Regions from separate parts of the Homo sapiens genome. Here region 2 is linked to region 1. A link means that fine-mapping ties the variant in region 1 to the expression of a gene that starts in the linked region. Tissue or cell type: whole blood. Region 1 holds a variant in brackets; the other region holds the start of a gene. All regions are shown on one strand. Distances are between the middles of the regions.

Region 1 (8,104 bases):
AATCCCAGCACTTTGGGAGGCTGAGGCGGGTGGATCAGGAGGTCAGCAGATAGAGACCATCCTGGCTAATAAAGTGAAACCCCGTCTCCACTAAAAATAAAAAAATTAGCCATGCATGGTGGCACACGCCTGTAGTCCCAGCTACTCGGGAGGCTGAGGCAGGAGAATCGCTTGAACCTGGGAGGTGGAGGTTGCAGCGAGCCAAGGTTGCGCCACTGCACTCCAGCCTGGGCGACAGAATGAGACTCCGTCTCAAAGAAAAAAAAAAAAGGATATTTTTTCCTACACGCTTACGGTTAAGAGTTTGCTTGGTGCCTGTAATCCTGGCACTCTGAGAGGCCAAGACAGGAGAATTGCTTGGGCTGAGGAGCTTAAGACCAGCCAGGGCAACATAGTGAGACCCTGTCTCTACACAAAATTTAAAAATTAGCTGGGTGTGGTAGTGCACTGATAGTCCCGAATACTAGGGATGCTGGGGCAGGAGGGTGGCTTGAATCCAGGAGCTCAAGCCTGCCCTGAACCATGATTGTGCCACTGTACTCCAGTCTGGGTAACAGAGTGAGACCCTGTCTCCAAAAAAAAAAGTTTGCTTGGCATTATAAAGGAAATAAAAGGAGTGCACACAGAAAGTTTGCTTGGCACACCTGTCACGACACCTGTAAGTGGTGCTGGTCTCATGAGTAGAACAGATCTGTGAATGACAATTCTAATTTGTTGGGTCAGAATTTTCTCATTCATGTCTCCTCTTTCTCTATAGCCAATGTCAGCTGATGACCAGTTTAAGAAATAACATTGGCCGGGCGCGGTGGCTCATGCCTGTAATCCCAGCACTTTGGGAGGCCGAGGCGGGCAGATCCTGAGGTCAGGAGATCGAAAGCATCCTGGCTAACACGGTGAAACCCCGTCTCTACTAAAAATACAAAAAAAATTAGCCGGGCGTGGTTCGGGCACCTATAATCCCAGCTACTAGGGAGGCTGAGGCAGGAGAATGGCGGGAACCCGGGAGGCAGAGCTTGCAGTGAGCCGAGATTGGAGATCGCACCACTGCACCCCAGCCTGGATGACAGAGCGAGACTCTGTCTCGAAAAAAAAAAAAAAAAAAAAAGAAAAGAAAAGAAATAACATCAACTAGAATAGTGCAAACTGCCTGCAAATTCCTTCCACTGTGGCCAACTTCCCAAGTGTGAGGAGGTCTGTGAGGAGCACCAAGACCAGCCACTTTGGCCTCCATCATTCTCACAAATACCTTTCCAGTCAGTGGGGAGGAAATAATCCCATTGCCGATGTTCTTCTTGGAGTGATCTGGAATCACACTCGGGCGGCCGGGAAGGGAGGAGGAGCCTGTCCTGGAGATGAGGCCCTCGGGACTTTTCTTAGAGCCTGGAATTCTGTCAAAGGAAGAAAACAAGTAGGGAATTCTCTTACTAGGCATTACAGAAACGGAGAGAATTAGAATAAGTTAAGGCGGGGCAAAGGCAGAAACACGGCCTGGGGAAACCCTGCCAGTCCTAACCACTTCTCTGGAATCTCCCTTTGCCTTTCAACCACAGTGAGGCTGAGAGATCAGCCCCAAGTATCTGCTGAATATAAGCAGAGCAAGGGCAAATTAGAGTCAGAATTCCTCCAAGATCAGAGTTCAATGCACCAGAAAGCAAGAACCTCAAACACCTCAGCCACACTCTGCAGAGACGTACAAAGCAGCAAAAATGCCTCAGCTGCCACGGTCTCCAGCCTCCAGGTCAGTGACAGCCAGCTCCAGGAGAAGGCCCCTCCAGAGAAGCTCTGCAGCAGCACCCCCACAAACACGTCCTTCCCAGCATATCCCTACAGGGGCAGCTTCCCCACACGGGAAGGGGCATTGGCTGGCTACCATCCAGGGAGCAGTACCTCTAATTTGGGGCAATACTATAAATGGTGACTTTCCTGTTTACATTCAAAACAGCATCAATGTGAGGGCAGATGGGATCCTGTCCTGACCTTCCCAAGGCTCTGGCTTTACTAAAAAGTGTCCTTCCCTGTGGACGGTCTCTATGACACATGACAAATCCCTCCAGTGGAATTCCCAATTACCTTCAAACAAAAAAAGGTTAGGGAGGCCCACCGGTATAAGAAAAGAGCAGAGGGAGTGAGCTCATCTGGGGAGGGCGTGAGTTTATTACCGCAGATAGAACAGCACGTAGGCCTGCTGGTTCAGAACCACCTTGACGTTGCTGGAATGGACCAAGGAATCATTCATCTGGTACCACTGTCCATTGCTTGCCTGAAGCAGCCAAGGATGTTGCAGAAAACAAAACAATCAACAAGCATCCCATTATCCTCACTTTTTAAAAAGGGAATAAAAAATCTGTTAGTTGCTACATTTCCAAACACTATTAATAATCAACAGGTAACAACTTCTATTAAAACGTGTAATATTTTCATAACTCGGAATGTGACCCCAAAGTGTGCTCTGCGTCCCAGTTCCTTCCTAGTGCCCCAACAGATAGGAACTGTCCCTTCTAAAGGACATTCAGGCAGTGTCATCACCATGGCCGATTTTGCCAGGGTTCTAAGGATGGCACCAGAAGCGGCTGCCTCTTCCGTGTCTCCCTGCAAGTCTGAGAACACTAGATTCTGGTGCAACACTTCTGTAAAGGGCATCTTTTCACTCCACGCAGAGAGGCAACAACGAGGACTTGAATACAACCACAAAACATCACACTTTTCACAAAGTAAGTGCTCTACAGAGGCCGCATCTGGATGTGCATGGGTGCTGAAACCTGTCCCAGGAGGCAGCTGCACTGACACAAGCCTCTCACCTTCACGTAGCAGTAATAGTGCCCGGCATGGCAGCTGTAGCCCGAGTGCACCAGGACAGCATAGAGTCCATACATGACAGGATCACCATTATTCTGGGACATATACGGACGTATGTTGAGGAATTCCGGATAGCCTACATCCTGTTTGAAAAATCAAGGAAAAGACAAATAAAATTCACTTTGAGAGTAAAGATCAATTTGCCCTTTCCATCCACAACCACACAAAATGCCCAGCTTGTCTGGTCTTTAACAATTTGGGGGCCGGGCACAGTGGCTCACGCCTGTAATCCCAGCACTTTGGGAGGCTGAGGCAGGGGGATCACCTCGAGGAGTTCGAGATCAGCCTGACCAATATAGCGAAACCCCACTTCTAATAAAAATACAAAAAATTAGCTGGGCATGGTGGTGCACTGCCTGTAATCCCAGCTACTCAGGAGGCTGAGGAACAAGAATCACTTGAACCCGCGAGGCAGAGGTTGCAGTGAGCCGAGATCGAGCCACTGCACTCAGCCTGGGCGACAGAGCGAGACTGTCTCAAAACTGCCCCGCCACAAACAAGAAAAAGACAATTTGGGGCGAATGGGTGTGCAGCAACGCTGTGCAGGAGCTCCCCCAGGCAATGATTAAAAACCAAGATGCTGGCCAGGTGC[G/A]GTGGCTCACGCCTGTAATCCCAGCACTTTGGGAGGCCGAGGCGGGTAGATCACAAGGTCAAGAGATTGAGACCATCGTGGCCAAGATGGCGAAACCTTGTCTCTACTAAAAATACAAAAATTAGCCAGGCGTGGTGGCACGTGCCTGTAGTTCCAGCTACTCAGGAGGCTGAGGCAGGAGAATCGCTTGAAACCAGGAGGTGGAGGTTACAGTGAGCCGAGATCATACCACTGCACTCCAGCCTCGCAACAGAGCGAGACTCCATCTCAAAACAATCAAAACAAACAAACAAAGAAAAAACACCAAGATGCTGAGAAGTGAGTCTTCTCCAGCCAGCCTATGGGAAACTTTATTGTCCCATCAAGCAATGCAGGATCTGTTCTTGTCTTTGTCAAGCATCTCCATTAGTTCTCTCACCACCTGGTTCCTAACGATCAAATGAGAAGGGTCACTCATTTTCTTTCCCTCCACTTTACAGGAACATTGTTGGTGGGAGAAAAGGGAGAGAATGCTGGGTTTTAGATCTTCAGAAATAAAAGTGCTGAATTAATATAGCCAACTGCTACCGCAAGTAAGACTTTTAATCAACTGGATCAGAAGAAAGGTCATGCTAAAATGTCTTCCCAAAACTGACCAATTTTTCATAGAAAAAAATACACGCACACATATACATAACATGCATACATATATGCATACATGCACGCATAAAATACATGCACACATATATACATACATGCATACATACATCGTATACACACATGCACACATATATACATACACACACACATATGCATGCATACACATGTACGCATATACATACATGCACAACACATACATGCACGCACACATGCATACGCACACATACACACACATATACACACATGCATGCACACACATATACATACACACACATATAATACGTGCACACACATATATACATACATGCACACACATATATTCTTAGCAGTAATAGTGCCTGGCATGGCAGCTGTAGGCTGAGTGCACCAGGACAGCACAGAGCCCACATGACAGGATTGCCATTATTCTGGGTCATATACAGACGTGTGTTTAGGAACTCCGAAAAACATACGCATAATTTTTTTTTTTTTTTTTAAGAAACACAGTCTCGCTCTGTCACCCAGGCTAGAGTGCAGTGGTACATTCATAGCTCACTGTAACTTCAAACTCCTGGACTCAAGCAATCCTCCTATCTCTACCTCCCAAGTAGCTGGGACTATAGGCACGCGCCACCATGACTGGCCAATTAATAAAAATTTTTTAGGCCGGGCATGATGGCTCACACCTATAATCCCAACACTTTGGGAGGCCGAGGTGGGTGGATCACTTGAGGTCAGGAGTTCAAGACCAGCCTGGCCAACATGGTGGAACCCCGTCTCTACTAAAAATACAAAATTTAGCCAAGCATGGTGGCACACATTTGTGGTCCCAGCTACTTGGGAGGCTGAGGCAGGAGAATCGCTTGAACTTGGGAGGCAGATATTGCAGTGAGCTGAGATGGTGCCACTGCACTCTAGCCTGGGTGACAGAGTAAGACTCCGTCTCAAAAAAAAAAACAAAAAAACCAAAATTTTTTTGTAGAGACAGGGTCTCACTATGTTGCCCAAGCTGGTCTTAAACTCCCAGTCTCAAGCAATCCTCCCACCTCAGCCTCCCTAAGTGCTGACATTAGAGTTGTGAGCCATTGTGCCCAGCCTAAATCATTTTTTTAAACTGAGTTGTGGGATTTGTTGAAATGCATAGATCTTCAGTATATAGATCAAAGAGTTTTGACAAGTATATACTGATGGACATGCAGAACATCAACTAGAAAATTCCCACATCCCAGTCATTGCCCCCATCTCAAATATTCACTGTTCTGATTTCTGTCACCATTAATTTTGCCTGTTCTTAAACGTCACATACCATCAGTCATGTGCCACATAACATGTTTTGGTCAATGACAGACCACATATACAACAGCGATCCCATAAGATTATAATACTGCATTTTCACTGTACCTTCTCTATGTTTAGATACACAAATACTTCCCATTGTGTTGCAACTGCCTACAGTATTCAGGACAGGAACAGGCTGTGTAGGTTTGTGGCCTAGGAGCAATGGGCTATACCATACAGCTGGCTCCGTCATCTACGTCTGTGTAAATGCACTCTATGATGTTCACACAGTGACAGAATTGCCTGGTGACACATTTCTTAAAACATGCCCTTGTGGTTACACGACACCTGAGTCTACGACATTAAGAATCTGCAAACACATTTGAGAAATGCTGACCTAAGCAAGCCCCCACCACTACCAGTGAGGAAACGGAGGCTCAGCCAAGGGTGTCATTCCAAACCACATAACCAGGCTCTCAGAACAGAACTCTAGATTTTTATGAGATACAGACATCTACTGGGCACGGTGGCTCATGCCTGTTATCCCAGCACTTTAGGAGGCTGAGGCAGGCGGATCACCTGAGCTCAGGAGTTCGAGACCAGCCTGGCCACCATGGCAAAACCCCATCTCTACTAAAAATACAAAAATTAGCCAGGTGTGGTGGTGGGCGCCTTAATCCCAACTACTCTGGAGGCTGATGCAGGAGAATCACTTGAACCCAGAAGGTGGAGACAGCGCCACTGCAATCCAGCCTGGGCATCAGAGCAAGACTCTGTCTCAAAAAAAAAAAAAAGAGAAAAAAGAAAAAAGAAACACATCTTCTATGAAAATGCCACTATAGGCCAGGTATGGTGGCTCACACCTGTAATCCCAGCACTGTGAGAGGTCAAGGCATGCAGGTCACTTGAGCCCAGGAGTTTGAGACCACCCTGGGCAACACAGCAAGATGCTGTCTCTACAAAAAACTTTTTAAAAAATTAACCAGGCATGGTGGCATGTGCCCACAGTCCCAGCTACTCAGGAGGCTAAGGCAGGGGGATCGCTTGAGCTTGGGAGGTCAAGACTGTAGTGAGCGCTGATTATGCCACTGCACTCCAGCCCAGGTGACAGAGTGAGACCCTGTCTTAAAACAAAATGAAATTTAAACAATAAAATACCATCGTGTCAAAAGTAGTTTTTCTAAACTCCATATTTCATAAAAAGCCAGAGCATGCAACGGCACCTGTTCTAGACATCAAAAGGACATGGACAATGCAAGTCCCACCGCCCAGTGCTCATCACACTCATCTGGAGAACCCTGAAAGTCCCTGCCAGGACCAGCCCAAGCACAACCAGAAGCTGCGGTAAATCCATTAAGACAGTGGCCCTGGAACTTGACTGTGTATAACAAGCATTCAGGGATTTTGCAAAAATGCAGATTCCTGGGCCCTGTCCTCCAGAGATTCAAATTCACTGGCACTGGGATAAACCCAGAAACGTCTATTTTTAAAAGGCGTCCCAGGTTGCTTCCCCTCTCTGTGACTGTCTTCCCGTCCTGGACAAGGGCGAAACTACAGTCCCTACTTCACAATATGTGTAGAACCTTTAGAACAGGGACAGGTACTGTGTAAACAGCAGCTATCAAACTCGTGGCTATCACTTTCTTCGTGTTATTCTGATGCCGACTGTGGCCCACGGAGCTGCCTGGGATGGTGTCACGAGCGCTCACCTTGGTGATCTTCCCCCCGCTGAAGTTGGCAAAGCGCTTGAGGGAAAGGGTTAAGACGTTGGATGTTCTGTGGATGGTGAAGCGCTTGCTGGCTGGAACCTTCTTCTTGCATCTATGAAGAAGGTGATGAGAAAGATTAATGAATGATTGATTCGTGCTCTGAAAAATGTTGTCTTAACGCTAAGTTAATAACAGCAACAACTGCTCTGTAATAGTGGAATCTTCATCAATGAGATTTCGACCTTCTGCTCCTCTCAAAATCACATTAAGCATGCCTCAAGTAAAGGAAAGCTACCACAGGGAAATAAGACTACAGAAAGTGGGAAGATTCTAAAGCAAAAAAATAAAAGTACTGTACCCACCAGGAAACTAAATAAAATACAGGAAAAAGTTGCTTTGGGCCAACACAGGAAAGAGCAAATTAAAGCAGATGTGGCTGAGTGATAAAACGGGCAGGCAGGAAGTCAACGTAAGCAAAGCTAGAAGATGCGCAAACACAGGGAGAGAAAACAGAAGCAGAGGCGCGCAGCTTGGAGAGCTGCAGGAAACAGACCTAAAGAAGAGTAAAGCAGAATTAAGAATATATTCTTTAGTGCCTACAGCTTTACAAGGACCTAGATATAAAGATATTCAGCCGGCTGTAGTAGTGTGATCCCAGCACTTTGGGAGGCAAGGCAGGAAGATCACCTGAGTTCAGGAGTTCGAGACCAGCCTGGCCAACAAGGTGAAACCCTGTCACTACTAAAAATGCAACAAATGACAAAGTAAGAGTTCTATCTGCAGAAACGGAAAAATGTCCAAAACCAGTTAAGTAAAAAATGAAAGCCAAAGAAAACACTCCTTAAGAGGCAAGAGAGCAGCTGGTTGGGCACAGTCCCTGGGGCGGCCGCCCGGTGCCAGCCAGTGTGAACTGATGTGAGCTCGTGCTCTGCCACGTCCTCTTGGTGTGGCCCCATGGCTGGTCACTTCACTTCTCTGTGCCTCAGTTTCACCATCCCTAGCAATGGGAAACCACAGCCCCTACTGCACAATATATGCGGCATCTTTAGAA
Region 2 (8,104 bases), 87 kb after region 1:
CCTCCCCCTCCTGGGTTCATGCAATTCTCTTGCCTCAGCCTCCCAAGTAGCTGGGACTATAGGCACGCGCCACCATGCCTGGCTAATTTTTGTATTTTTAGTAGAGATAGGGTTTCACCATGCCGGCCAGGCTGGTCTCAAACTCCTGACCTCAAGTGATCTGCCCGCCTTGGCCTCCCAAAGTGCTGGGATTCCAGGCATGAGCCCCCGCACCCGCCAGACTCTGCATCTCTAAAGTGCTGGGATTCCGGGTGTGAGCCCCCACGCCCGCCAGACTCTGCATCTCTAAAGCGCTCCCAGGGATGCTGATGCTGCCATCTGGGGGACCACGCTTGGAGTACTGCGGCCCTGGCAAACCATCTCTTCCAGGAAGCTGCATCTTGCTCTGCCTTCCTCCCCTGCCAGCAGCTCAGCCCTGATCATCTCTCACCTGAGGCCCTTAAAAGCCTCCCAATCAGCCTCTCTGCCCCCGACCCCCAGGCCTGCACCCCGTCCTCTCCCGCACTGCAGCCCAGCGCTGTCTAACTGAGAGACCTGGGTTACATTTCAGCATCCCCCATGTGATTCCCTGCTGTCCACACCAGCAAGTCTCTGAGTGCAACCCGCAGCCACGTGCATCATAATCAGCTGAGCTGCTGGTGAAGGGGTAGATTCCTGGGCCTCACCCCTGACAGATCCTATCCCAGCCCCTGCGGGAGGGGCCCAGGAATGCAGCCAGTTCACCAGCTGCCCTGCCAAAGCCTGGCAATCTCTGGGCCTAGAGGCTTGAGAACGGTCAAGCAGCTCGCCCTGGCTCCCCTGGGAGCCACCCTAGCCTGGAACGCTGCACACCAGACAGGGGTGGTAGAGCTCCTGGCCATTCCCAAATGCCCCACACCCAGCAGCGCCTGGAATGTGCTCATGCAGGTTCCTCGTGACATGGACACACCCCCTTCCCCATCCTACCCGCATGTCCCCAGCCCAGGCCTCGTTCCCACTCCCCCAGGATGCCCCAACCCTCCAAGGGAACAAAGAGAATGCTCTTCCCTTTCTCCAGAAGCCCAGCACCCGGGCCACATAGTCAAGCGCTTTGTCTTTGAAACATAAAAATAGCTATAGAAGGGCTCCGTTAGCTGGCATCGGCCAGAGAGAGAACATTTCCATATAATTAGAGCTTACCCTTTCATATGGAAAGTTAGACATTTCTCTGTCTAAGGCGCCTACGTAGAATATGTAATTTGACCTTCTTTGGGGGAAATTTTGGATTGTCTTTGGGATGATAATATAGGAAATCCCTCGAGGGCTTTTAAAATGTAAAGAACAGAGGTCCCATAAACTAAGTGACCCCAGAATGCAATTTGGGTTTTTTAAGTCGCCTTTTTAGAGCTTCCTGTGTCCTCCCTTCCCTGGTCATAACTGTCTGACAGCAGCCACACAAACAAGCTTATTAAAATTGTGGTTTTTTTGGCCGGGCGCGGTGGCTCACGCCTGTAATCCCAGCACTTTGGGAGGCTGAGGTGGCTGGATCACCTCACGACAGGAGTTCGAGACCAGCCTGACCAACGTGGTGAAACCTCGTCTCTACTAAATACAAAAAATTAGCCAGGTGTGGTGGTATATGCCTGTAATCCCAGCTACTCAGGAGGCTGAGGCAGGAGAATCACTTGAACCCAGGAGGCGGAGGTTGCAGTGAGCCAAGATCGCACCACTGTACTCTAGCCTAGGCAACAGAGCAAGACTCCATTTCAAAAAAAAAAAAAAATGTGTTTTTTAATAAAGTAAGTAGAGTCCGAGGTGGTGGTGGGCTCTTCCACAGGACCACTGCCTGAGCTTTCACACCTGACCTTATCAATTCAAAGCTGTGGGCATCCCCGGATACAGATAACCCTTGGGGGAGGTGGAAAATTGTTGCTAGACTCTAGCCTAGAGGTTTTTAACAGCTTGCACAACTGGCCAAATCTTACAAGATAAAAAAAGGTAATGGGAACACATCTAAAACTTATATGTGGGTCCCTAAATCCAACTATGCAAGTACAGAGGTGGGTGTGTGGAGCAGCACAGGGGACAAAAGACGCTGGGCCACCAGAAGGGCCAACGTGACTGTCCCCTGAGTGAACAGAAACGCCTCTAACATGCGAGCGAATGGTGCAGCCCAGCCAGCCCGACCTCACCTGGCCATGCTAGGAGGCAGTGGGCAAGCGGCAACGCTGTGGTGCCCAGGACGCCGGCAGGCACAGCGCCACGTCCACGGGCACCGCCCGTTCCCACCCTGCAGGACGCCACAGCATCAGACGAGACGGCCCGTGTGAAGCGCCGAGAACAGAGTCTGGCTTCCGGGAGGGCTCAGGAAATGCCGAGAGCTCGGCAGAGACACCCACGTGGTGCTGGATTCCACGCACGAGGAACCGACGGGCAGACGTGGAGCTAAATGATGGTCAACAGCTACGAAGTGCCTGTGCTCTAGAAATGGCCAATTTGATCATGTCACGGGATAAAGTTTCAAAATCAATAAAACCGTGATGAAATGATCAGGAATAAACCTGTCCAGAACTGTTCAAGACCTAAAGGAGATGCACGGGCTGAAGAACAAGGAGCAAATCTGAACGAGGGAGAGGTGTGTCTTCCTGGACAGTTCTCGGGAGAGGAGGAGGGCGGTAAGGACGGGGAGAAGAGGCCGCAGGCTTGGAGTCCAGGAGGAGAATGAACTCCTTTGGTCAGGAGGGGCCCACTGACCAAAGGTCCTAGGAAGAAAAGCCAAAGGAGGTGAGGTGGGGCAAGGGTGTTTGCAAAGGATAGAAAAGTCTAGAATGGCAGAGTATGGTGCTTAAGAGTACTATGTGACCTAGGCCAAGCGACTTCACTCTGGGTGCCTCAGTTTGCTCTTTAGGATGGGGATGATAACAACAGCAGCACCCATCTACAGAGATGCCAGTGCTTGTCACCACGAGAAGCACCTGAAATGCTTGGGGAAGAGGGGTGGTACTTACTGTGTGTGTCTCCAGATGACTGAGCTAGACCACCCAGAACACATTACAGGGAGGCAGAAGCTGACAGGAGGGCAGGAAGCACTGTCTCCAGGGCTGTCTTGAAATCACTGGGCTGACTTTGTAGGTAGTGAGACGCCCATCACTGGAGGCATCCGAACCAAGCCCAGATAAAACAAACATCAGAAACATTTTTAACTCCGTTTCTCTGAGTTCTAGCCTCTAAAAATACCCTCCATGACACGCTGTGTGCTGCCAGAGGCTTGGTTTTCGCCCTCTTCTCCCCAACTCTTAGCCACGTCCCAGTGGTGGCGGGGGGACGGGGGTCCCAAGCCACTGCACTGGGTTTTGGTTTCACTATGTTGCCCAGGCTGGAGTGCAGTGGTGCGATCTCAGCTTACTGCAACCTCCACCTTCCGGGTTCAAGCAATTCTCCTGTCTCAGCCTTCCCAAGTAGCTGGGACTACAGGCGCACGCCACCACACCCAGCTAATTTTTGTATTTTTAGTAGAGACGGGGATTCACCATATTGGTCAGACTGGTTACAAACTCCTGACCTCAGGTGATCCACTCGCCTCGGCCTCCCAAAGTGCTGGGATTCCAGGCATGAGCCACCATGCCCAGCCTGCACTGGGTTTTGGACTGGCTGTGTTAGCATCACCTGGGGCAGGGGTGGGTCACGTTAGAATGAGTCCTGGCTAGGCCCACAGCAGGCTTTTCCACCCGAATACTGGGGCCACAGCTCATGAATCTGTGTGTATCCATATCCTGGGCTGGGTCAGCTCTCCAGGGTGGAGATGGTTGGGCAGGCAGCCTCTGGGGGCAAGCTCGGGCTCAGGCCTCCCCTTGACCAGCTTCACAGAGACAGACACTGAGGCAGACTGACCTCCAAACTCCCAGCTGAGACGCCAGCTCCCCACGTGGGGGGCTTACAGCTGATGCAACCGGTGGCTCACTAAACATACCTCGACAGCGTCCATTACCGCTTCCCTGCAAACCTCAAGATCCTAAGCACCCAGCCTAGGTCAGGGGTCCCCAATCCCAGCAGGTGTTCCTGCTTCCTGAAGACCCCCCAGCCCAACTCCTCCAACAACCATATTCATCTCCAACCCAGTCCCACCAGCTTCCCTCACTCTCCTTCCCATCACACTGCCTGTGGGGAGCCCCGTGGTGCAGGGACTTTGCCGCTGGCCTTGCGAACCCACGGCTTGGAGCCCCTCCTTGGCCCACTCTCCGGGGCCCTCTTGGGAGCCTCGCTAAACAGCTGGGCATGGAAAGAACCCCACCCTCACCACAGATGGGAACAGACACAGAGAGCCTCAGCCCCGCAGTGGTCTCAGGGGCCCACTGACCAAAGGTGGCCGGAATCGCTTCCCCGCCTCCACCTGCAGCCCGGCCTCTGCCCTGGCTGGCTACTCATAGCAGGCTGTTGCCATGGGAACAGCAGAGCTGTTGAGCTGTGACATCATGGCAGGGGTGAGGTCAGGGACAGCTGTGAGCCAGCCAGGGGGCAAGCGTGTAGGTTAGGGGATCAATCATAAAGATTTGGCTCAAGCAGCCGGGAGCCATGGGGGCACCTGAAGGCACTGTTTAAGGAGGTGTGGGTGAACAAGGACAGTGCAATGTACAAATGCTCGTGGCCATACCAGGCAGAGGACATCTTTTTGTCCCCAGCTGGCTGCATGGAGACCTCCCAGGGTGTCATTCTCTCTGAGCTGTCAGGCCATTAAGGAGGTACACTTCAAGGTCAGGGTTCCTGACAACGCCTGCCATCCCTTCTCCTGTAGGGACAGCATCTGTTCACGCTTCTAAACAGCTCCAGAAAGCCATCGTTAAACTGAAACCCACTGGAGGCGGGGGAAGAAAGAATCCCGTCAACCACCTGCCCACACAGGAGGAGAAGCCACACGTACTTGGCCTCGTTTGAGGGCTAGTTCCCCACAGACAGTTTGATCAGAAGGATGGGCGAGGGAAGCTGGCAGGGCGAGGCTGGGGATGAACATGGGACACTGGGGGAGTCTGGCCGGTGCAGGGGGTTTCCAGGAAGCAGGAGTAGCTGCTGGAAATGGGGGCCCCTGACCTAGTCTGGGTGGTTGGCATCTTAAGGTCTGTGGTAAAGTGATGACTGGCATTGTCAAGATATGTTTTTTGTTTGTTTTTTAGACAGTCTTGCTCTGTTGCCCAGGCTGGAGTACGGTGGCGCAATCTCGGCTCACTGCAACCTCTGCCTCCCGGGTTCAGGGATTCTAGTGCCTCAGCTTTCTGAGTAGCTGGGACTACAGGTGCATGCCACCATGCCCAGCTAATTTATGTGTGTGTGTGTGTGTTTTAGCAGAGACGGGGTTTTACCATGTTGGCTAGGCGGGTCTTGAACTCCTGACCTCAAGCGATTCCCCTGCCTCGACCTCCCAAAGTGCTAGGATTATAGGCACGAGCCACCGCCCCCAGCCCAAGATATGTTTTAGTAAGCCGCCAGTTGGATCATCTGTAAGCAACTCACTAGAAGCTTCCAGCATCCTCCACAAATTTGACAACTGAGAAATGTGGCTGGGAAATCATGATTTGGGTCCGAAGAAGTGAAAGCAACAATCCTCAGGTTGTTGTTTCTTGAGAGAAGAAGGTAAACAGCAGGAATTCGGCTGAGGTGTCCAAATCTCGGGGAGGATGAATTCTCAGGAGAGCTGAACCTGAGACAAAGCCCTTTGTCCTGGGCTGGAAGGACCCTGGAAAGGTTATCTGGTCCCTGACTCAGGGAAGGGAGGCATTCTCCCTGCAGGAATGTTCTCGATCACAGTCCACCACCACCCCCCTACCCCCGCCCACTTTTGGAGTCCATCTTCGCAGCCCTTGATGATTCATTTTATGTCAGCTTGACGGGCTAAGGGATGCTCAGATAGCTGGGAAAACGTGATTTCTGGGTGGCTCTGGGAAGAGACTGGCATCTGAACCGGGGGACTGAGTAAGAAGATCCCTCCTCGCCAGGTGGGGCACCATCACTCAATCTGTTGAAAGCCCGGACAGAACAAAGAGACAGAGGCAGAGGCAGGCAAACCCTCCCTCTGCAAGAGCTGGGACATCCAGGCTGGGCGCGGTGGCTCACGCCTGTAATCCCAGCACTTTGGGAGGCCGAGGCAGGTGGATCACCTGAGCTCAAGAGTTTGAGACCAGGCCAACATGGTGAAACCCCATCTCTACTAAAAATACAAAAATGACCCGGGCGTGGTGGCGCACACCTACAGTCCCAGCTACTCAGGAGGCTAAGGCAGGAGAATCGCTTGAACCAGGGAAGTGAAGGTTGCAGTGAGCCGAAATCGCACCACTGAACTCCAACCTGAGCAACAAAGTGAGACTCCATCTCAAAAAAAAAAAGAGAGAGAGCTGGGACATCCACCTTCTTTCTGCCTTGGACCTCAGAGCTCCTGGGCCTCAGGCCTTTGGGCTCCAGGACTTACCCCAGTGGCCACCCCGCTTCTCAGGCTTTGAGACTCAGGCTGCATTACTGCACCAGTGACCCTGCTGCTCCAGCTCACAGACAGCAGATTCCAGGACCTCCCAGCCTTCATACTTGCATGAGTCAATTCCCACATAAATCCCATCTTACGCAGCTGGATGGAGCCTATTGGTTCTGTTTCTCTGGGAAACCCTAATACGGACCCATAGATACAAAATCTTCTATATGCTTCTTCCTCGGAGAAGATCCCTACATCTTTTATCCTCTCAGCGTGGCCTTGACGCCCATTCTAAAGCAAGGGGAGAGGTTCTAGTGAGGAGGAAATAGCATGGGGACCAACAGGATGGCACGCTAGGCCTTCGATGGCCCTTGCAGAATGTCCAGCACGACTGCCAAGTGCTCGTCAGGTCTTTTCTGGACTGAGGACATCTCTCTCAAGCCTGGGCTCTCCTGACGCTGCCTTGGCAAGCTCTAGAAGGCAGCCCCATCCTCTGGATTAATCCGCCCTGCTAAATGTTCTCTCTGGCATGGGATTCACTACTGGCCTAAGGCCAACTCAGCCTTGAGAGTCTGGGTCCATACTATTGTTGACTGCAATTAGAACCACATATTAGCAAATGCTAGCTTTTAAAAATTACAGGTACAGGCAGACCTCAGACATACTGCGGGTTGAGTTCCCACAGAATCATAATAAAGTGAATATTGAAATAAAGTGAGTCACATGACTCTTTTGGTTTCCCAAACCAATATATATTCCCAAATATAAATGTTATGTTTACATTGTACAGTAGCCCAGTAAGTGTGCAATAACATTATGTCTTATCAATGCACATACCTTAATTTACAAATACTTTATTGGCCGGGGCAGTGGCTCACGCCTGTCATCCCAGCACTTTAGGAAGCCAAGGCAGGTAGATGGCTTGACCCCAGGAGTTTCAGACCAGCCAGGCAACACAGTGAGATCCTACCTCTATAAAAAACTAAAAATAGCCAGGCATAGTGGTGCGTACCTGCAGTCCCAGCTACTCAGGAGGCTGAGGCAGGAGGATGGCTTAAGCCCAGAAGTTCGAGGCTGCAGTGAGCTAAGATCATGCCACTGCACTCCAGCCTGAGTGACAGAGCAAGGTCCTGCCTCAAAAAAAAGAAAAACCCAAAACTTGAAGAAATAAAAATAAAAATAAAAATATTTTATTGCTTGAAAATGCTAACAATCATCTCGACCTAGTGAGTCCAGTCTTTTTGCTGGTGGAGGGTCTTGCCTCCATGTTGATGGCTGCTGACTGATCAGGGTGGTGGTTGCTGAAGATTGGGGTTGGCTGTGGCAATTTCTTTTTTTTCCTTTTCTTTTTTATTTTTATTATTTTTTTTGAGACAGAGTCTCGCTCTGTTGCCCAGGCTGGAGTACAGTGGTGCGATCTCGGCTCACTGCAACCTCCATCTCCCGGGTTCACGCGATTCTTGTGCCTCAGCCTCCCGAGTAGCTGGGATTACAGGCCTGCGCCACCACACCTGGCTAATTTTTGTATTTTTGGTAGAGACGGGGTTTTACCATGTTGGCCAGGCTGGTCTTGAACTCCTGACCTCAGGTGATCCCCCCGCCTCAGCCTCCCAAAGTGCTGGGATTACAGGCGTGAGCCACCGTGTCTGGCCGGCAGGCCCACTTTCTTATTATTTGTGTGATCACCTGGAG

Evidence for each region. PIP is the estimated chance that this variant, and not a neighbour inherited with it, causes the effect.
Region 2: CEP295NL starts here. The variant in region 1 is fine-mapped to the expression of CEP295NL in whole blood (TOPMed, PIP above 0.99).

What each region holds. Positions count from the first base shown.
Region 1 is chr17:78,811,614-78,819,717 of GRCh38, forward strand. It overlaps USP36 (ubiquitin specific peptidase 36), which reads right to left. Exons shown (of 21, transcript NM_001385174.1): 10 at 7,054-7,165; 11 at 2,799-2,939; 12 at 2,160-2,260; 13 at 1,247-1,388. Among named protein-coding and RNA genes, the nearest start is that of USP36, 25 kb to the right of the region's middle. The variant G/A (reference allele first, on the strand shown) is at 3,449.
Region 2 is chr17:78,898,819-78,906,922 of GRCh38, forward strand. It overlaps CEP295NL (CEP295 N-terminal like), which reads right to left and starts at 4,383. Exons shown (of 3, transcript NM_001243540.2): 1 at 4,316-4,383; 2 at 2,967-3,108. The coding sequence starts at 3,010. The region is part of intron 1 of TIMP2 (TIMP metallopeptidase inhibitor 2); the gene reads right to left. RefSeq lists an enhancer at 3,562-4,162.